Homo sapiens: one gene and its partner. The protein of the gene in region 1 purifies or fractionates together with the protein of each later gene. This does not show direct contact. Each region holds a gene or a part of one and is shown on either strand. Other genes may lie near its edges.

Region 1 (3,500 bases):
ACTACCTGGAGTTTGCTATATTGCAGCAATATCAGGCAGTGCAGCCATAATGAGAGTTTGGAATTAGGGCAGTAATGACTGTGGTATTACGGGAAAATTGGCATTTTTCTGCCACTTGGGAAGATGTGTTCGAAGCTTTGATACCCTTTGAAAGCTAAGGAGGGCAGTAAGGAATTAAGGGGAGGAGCTGAATGTCCCTCCCAATCTAGAGGTTGTGCTGTCCTGCAGGTAAGTCTTGACTGGAGCTGGGGACGACATGAGGTAATACAGTACATGAACCTGTCCGGGGCAGGCTGTATCAGTGCTGCCAAACTTCAGACCTAAATGTCCTGTCTTAGTGATTCTCAAGGGATAACTGGGTAATTACCATGTCTCTGAAGAGGGGTAAATGTGATTTCTATTTTGAAAGTGGAGACCTTGCTTTCATAATACAGTTGCTGTTGGCCTTCCATTTCTATGGGTTCCCTATCCATGAATCCAGTTGTAGATAAAAAATACAATAATAAAAAATAATACAAATAAATATAACAACTATTTACATAGCATTCACATTGTATTAGGTATTGTGAATAATCTAGAGATGAGTTAAAGTATCCAGAAAATGTGCATAGGTTATTTTTTTATTTGTTTGAAGGGGAGTTTCACTCTTGTCACCCAGGCTGGAGTGCAGTGGCACAATCTCAGCTCACTGCAACCTCTGCCTCCCAGGTTCAAGCAATTCTCCTGCCTCAGCCTCCTGAGTAGCTGGGATTACAGGTGCCCGCCACCATACCTGGCTAATTTTTGTTTTTTAGTAGAGACAGGATTTCACCATGTTGGCCAGGCTGGTCTTGAACTCCTGTCCTCAGGTGACCTGCCCACCTCAGTCTCCCAAAGTGCTGGGATTACAGGCCTGAGCCACGGCGCCCAGCCTTGTTTTGTTTTTGAGACAGTCTCTGTTGCCCAGATTGGGGTGCAGTGGCGCAATCTCGGCTCACTGCAACCTCCTCCCAGGTTCAAGTGATTCTCCTGCCTCAGCCTCCAGGATTGCAGGTGCACGCCACCATGCCTGGCTAATTTTTGTATTTTTAGTAGAGACGGGGTTTCACCATGTTGGCCAGGCTGGTCTTGAACTCCTGACCTCAAGTGGTCCATCCAGCTCGGCCTCCCAAAGTGCTGAGATTACAGACGTGAGCCACCGTGCCCGGCCTGTGCATAGGTTATATACAAATTTTATATAAGAGACTTGAACATCTGGAGATGTTGATATCCAAGGGGGAACCCTGGAACCAATCCGCCTCAGATATCGAGGGACAACTAAACGGTACGAGGTGATACTAAGTTATAGTAATTTTTAAAAACCACTTTTTTGAGGTATGATTGGCATATATAAAGGTGTATATTTAGTGTATACAACTTGAAGAGTTTGGAGATTGTTAAAGTAATTTTTAACTGGGGGGCACCCCTGGAAGGGGGAGAGTGGTATTTATACTATTGGGTTGAGGGAGGATATAAGTTTCTTAAGAGTTAAAAAAGTTTTTGCCAGCTTAATGGTAAGCTATAGAAAGGCAGGGGTTAATGGCAGCTAAGGGGGCTACAGTTTGACCTGAGGGGCTTTGCCCTTCCCTGCCCTTCCACCTCATCCCAGTGTGGCTGGGACAGGGCTGCTGCTTGCAGGCCTGGTATCCTAGAGCCCATCATGTGTCCTCAGAGGGGTGTCAGGAAGCAGCCAGAGCCCTGGGACCACTGGGTGGCTTGAGGTCAGCCCTCCCTGAGATGTGGGTGAACAGGTGCTTAGACTTGTGTGGATGGAACGGGGAGGGGGGTGTGGGAGGTGGGGGATAAGGCACTCTAGATGAGTGCGAGGTAATTCCTGGATCCAGTGTGCTATTTGGGCACCTCCCTTTTCTTTAACATCAATAGCATTTGAAAGCATCTGGGACATCTTGGTCTGCAGGCTTTTTTTGAATATGAGGGAATGGAGGCTTCTCTGTTTCTGGGCACTCACCTAGAAGCCCTGCCAGGCATATAGCAGTAGGAGGTCAGGTTCCCCTCCTCACTGGGAGTTATTGTGGATGTGTCCCCTCTGCCTAAGTAATCTAAGGGAGAGGCTGTACTAATAATAATGAACCTGTATGTTGTATTTATGCCAGGCATTGTTATATGTTCTGCACCATTTTAACTCTTAATCTTTGTAAGAGCATTATGAAGTACTTACATTATTATCACCATTTCATAAATGAGGAAAGTGAGGCACAGAGAGGTTAAATAACTTTCATGTAGCTATTAAGTGGGGAGGTTGGGATTTGAACCCAGAGTTTGCTCTTAACCACACAGTATACTGCTATTGTGTTTTATATTAGGGTTTTTGGTGAGACTGGAAGGCAGGGGGAGAAAGGTATCTGCAATTTTCTTTTTTTTTTCTTTTTTTTGAGACGGAGTCTCGCCATGTCACCCAGGCTGGAATGCAGTGGTATGATCTTGGCTCACTGCAACCTCTGCCTCCCAGGTTCAAGCGATTATCCTGCCTCAGCCTCCCAAGTAGCTGGGATTACAGGCGCGCACCACTACGGCCAGCTAATTTTTATATTTTTAGCAGAGACGGGGTTTCACTGTGTTGGTCAGGCTGGTCTCGAACTCTTGACCTCCTGATCCTCCTGCCTCGGCCTCCCAAAGTGCTGGGATTACAGGCGTGAGCCACCGCGCCCAGCCGGGTATCTGCAATTAAAGTTTCTAATGGCTGAGTTTTGGGTGATGCCAACCAGAAGCCCAGAGGCTGACTCCGGACTAGTTTCCTTTGGGCTGGTGGCATCCCAAGATGGGTGATGGGAGCTGTCAGCCCCTGCCAGGAGGGGCCTTTTATCACAGATATGATTTAGAGTTGCCATTGCACGAAGATAATAAACAAACCAAGCCAGTTTTATTTTATTTTTATTTATTTATTTATTTTTGAGATGGAGTCTCGCTCTGTCGCCCAGGCTGAAGTGCAGTGGCGCGATCTCAGCTCACTGCAAGCTCTGCCTCCTGGGTTCACGCCATTCTCCTGCCTCAGCCTCCAGAGTAGCTGGGACTACAGGCGCCCGCTGCTACGCCCGGCTAATTTTTTGTATTTTTTAGTAGAGATGGGGTTTCACCGTGTTAGCCAGGATGGATTTTATTTTTTAAATTCTTTTTTTTTTTTTTTTTGAGACGGAGTTTCGCTCTTGTTGCCCAGGCTGGAGTGCAATGGCGCGATCTCGGCTCACCGCAACCTCCACCTCCTGGGTTCAAGCAATTCTTCTGCCTCAGCCTCCCAAGTAGGGGGATTATAGGCATGTGCTACCACGCCCAGCTAATTCTGTATTTTTAGTAGAGATGGGGTTTCTCCATGTTGGGAGGCCTCGGCCTCCCAAAGTGCTGGGATTGCAGATGTGAGCCACTGCACCTGACCTAAATTCTTTTTTAAAAAATCTATATCCTTACACATCTTGCATATTTTTAAAATTCTTTTTTTTTTTTTTTTTTTTTTTTGAGACGAAGTC
Region 2 (3,500 bases), on another chromosome or scaffold:
ACTTTAAAATGACACATTAAATTAGCTCCATGCTACCTGGAAGAACTTAATGACTCACAGTTAGAGATAAATTCCACTTCTAATATGTGTTTATTATTTTAAAATATTTAATTCTGCTATAGAAGATATGGTAACAAATGGGATGCATGAAACCCACAGTTTGCATTAAATATAGATAAGGATGAGTTAGTAGACCACACGTGTGTTAAACCCAGGTACTAAAGACACATGAGGCAACTGAGCTCTAAACATTCATAATATACTAAATATACAAGAGCCATGAACAATCCCTGATACAAAGGAAGTTCTTAATATTTTTGAGGGCATTATCAGCCTCAAAAATATTTTGATTTTGAGGATTCATGGATTGATGGAACTCCTTCCCACATGTCCTTTTCCCAAGGGCCACAAATAAAACCCAGAACTTCTCTGCAGGCTAATTCAGAAGCTACAAATGTAGCCAGTGTACTTGCCTCTCCATCTCTATGAGGAAGTATGTGTCACTGGCCCAGGGCACCAGATTCTGTCTGTAGTTCCCCTTCGTGCTACCTTATCGCAGGTCCTCATAACCACACCATCCTCAGGAAAAGTTGATGTGGCAGAGAGAGAGAGAGAGAGTATGAACACTGCCTATCCTAGGAATCAGGTAGTGTAGTTCTTCAACCTGCTTTCACTAAATCCTAAGTGGATTCTCTTACCCATCTCTTTCCACTTGCTTCTCACATTATATTTTACATTTGTTTCTTAATCTATGGAGGTCAGGCACCTTCATCTAGTCTGCGAGTGTTTCTGCTCTATGACCTCTGGAATAGACAGCTTGCTGGTAATGTGTTGGAAGCTACCATCGCATCAAGGTAATTTTCCTTGTGGCATCCCTAAAAAGCAATGGCATCAAGAACAGAAGCGAGTGTGAATTCTGAGCAGGAAGCCTGAGTCTTGAGAACATCTGAGGTTCTCTCGTTTCCCCTGCCTTTTCACTCACCTCGCATCAGCCAGAGTTGCTCGTGCCACAGCCCATGCTGCAACAAATGCTGCTGGAAACCCTGAAATCAGAAAATGATTCAGAGACTAGATTTATTTTAAGATTAAGGAGGTTTTTTCCTCAAATTCACCATATATAAGAATATACTATTAGCTGTTCAGAGATAAAAATAGACATGAAAATTTCTGATATGTGAACAAGAAAAGTCCACTTAATTTTTAATCATGTCAGTTTGAGAAATTAGCAAGAATATTGATGTTATTTGTTCCTCTAGTCTGAAGATAAAAACTGGCCTAATTTTCATCTGAGGGGTGTAGGGAAAAGCCATATTTGGAGAAGAGTGAAGTTCCTAGGGTTGGAAGTAAGCAATGGTTGGCATTTGACTTTGACTCTTGTCACGCTGACCATCATATGCTCTCAAGGAGTGAAGCAACACAGGGACTCCTGAAAAGCTGAGGGATGCTGTTGTTTTAAAAACTTAGAATTTTTTCATCCTAAAAATGGAAGGCATACTGAGGCAAGTTATAAAAATCAGGAAGTTTTAACCAGTTTAGTCTCTTCTTTTAGTTCACGTTGGCACAAGACAGAAGCATTTTCATGCATTAATAGAAAAGGGTGACCACTATATTTGTCTGATGATTTGAGCGCGAGATATTTGTCCTTCATAAGTGCTAAACACCTTCTGGGCTTGTAACATCAAATCCATTATACCGACTTTCGTTTGCCCCCCAGTAAAAGTTCACTGTCCAGCTCATGTTGTATTTGATTAAACTCTGACATCACACACAAAAAAATCATGAACCATAACTTATATGGAATACTGCAGTAGGGGACTGAAAGACTTAAGAGATGACTTTTCATTATGTGGCCTTTATGAAAGTGGTTTAAATAAAGGATATACAGAAACCATAAGGAAAACATTTTAGAATCTAGGAAGCACCTTACAAAAGGGGAAAACAAAATTTTGGTCTAGCCAAGAACATTTTTTATCAAGCATAACTTTAAATTCTTAACCTTTAAAAAAATTGTAATTTTTTTATATTCTTTCTTAGCAACAAAGTGAACAAAGAAATAGGCTTAGAAAAAGAAAATTTTCAGAAAAAGATGAAAATGATGATATGCACAATAATGTCTTTGGTCTCCTTAGTGACCATCTAACTTAAGTTCAGCCTGCCTATATCACTACTGAATTTTATGATTCTATATTCCAATTTTATTTCTTGTTTCTATAGTATTCTTTCTTTAATCTGCTCAAATTCTGTGTTCTAGGAATTTTTTGTCAAAATAGACCTACCTAATTCTGGTTATTTCTTAGGTTCAGTTTGCATATTCTATCTATCTATCTATCTATCTATTTATCTATCTATCTATCACATTTCTCCATTAATCATTTATTGTCTATTTATGTGTCAAAGATTGTTCTAAATGATATAAATAATGAACAAATAAACAATATCCCTGTTTTCTAAAACTTATATTCTGGTGAAGCAGTCAAAATTAACAAAGCAACTTCAGTTGCTTTTGGTTATGAATTGGTGCTATGAAGAATAAATAAAAGTGATACTATGTAATGGGGAGGGGACAGCTGCTTCTGGTAGGATGATTAGATATAAATCCACCATACAGTCTGGCATAGATTCTACCACATGGCCTGACATAGATCCCTCAGCTGTTCTATCTTGGTTGTCTTCAAAAAGTGTCTGCCTGTCTTTCATCAATTTTCACATCTTATCATTCTTATATCTGCATCTTCTGCTTCCTTTACATTCTTCTGATCAGGTACTTCCTGAATGCTGTTCTATACAGTATTTATTAATGGTGGTTGAGTTGGCATTATGTTTTAGATGATAATTATGTCAAATATCGTACACAGGCATTATGTCTTCATAGAATTGCTTTTCTCACCTTCTTAGAGAATCTTATGCATAAGACTAGCATAGAGACTACCATGGAAGAATGAAGAACAGAAAACTACTTTGGGATCCTTTAAGGATTTTTTATCACGAGTCTTAATATGAATTGTTACATAATTTAGAACACAGAAATAAAGGCAAAAATACTTGACATGTAAATGTTGTTTTAAATTTAAATGTTAAATTAAGTAAATTTAATATAAATTTAAATGTTATCTAGTATGTGCATTTACTGAAAGTTGAGTTATTTTCTTTTTTTTTTTGAGACGGATTCTTGCTCTGTCACCCAGGCTGGAGTGCAGTGGCATGATCCCGGCTCACTGCAAGCTCCGCCTCCCGGGTTCACACCATACTCTTGCCTCAGCCTCCCCAGCAGCTGGGACTGCAGGCGCACGCTGCCACGCCCGGCTAGTAGAGACGGGGTTTCACCATGTTAGCCAGGATTGTCTCGATCTCCTGACCTCATGATCCGCCCACCTCAGCCTCCCAAAGTGGAGTTATTTTCATAAGACACGTCAATACAAAATAAATAAGTTTTGTGAAGACAAAACTTTAAATTAACTTTAAAATAACTACAAATTAAAAATGTTGAATATGATACATAT

What was found. The genes of interacting proteins can lie anywhere in the genome.
Region 2: the proteins of RBPMS2 (region 1) and PTH2R purify together in Homo sapiens (co-immunoprecipitation; one large-scale study listed by IntAct). This does not show direct contact.

Annotation. Positions count from the first base shown.
Region 1 is NC_000015.10:64,769,090-64,772,589, reverse strand, and holds part of RBPMS2 (RNA-binding protein with multiple splicing 2), read left to right. Parts: intron 1-3,500.
Region 2 is NC_000002.12:208,448,292-208,451,791, reverse strand, and holds part of PTH2R (parathyroid hormone 2 receptor isoform 1 precursor), read right to left. Parts: intron 1,044-3,500; coding exon 983-1,043; intron 1-982. UniProt on the Homo sapiens protein: This is a specific receptor for parathyroid hormone. The activity of this receptor is mediated by G proteins which activate adenylyl cyclase. PTH2R may be responsible for PTH effects in a number of physiological systems.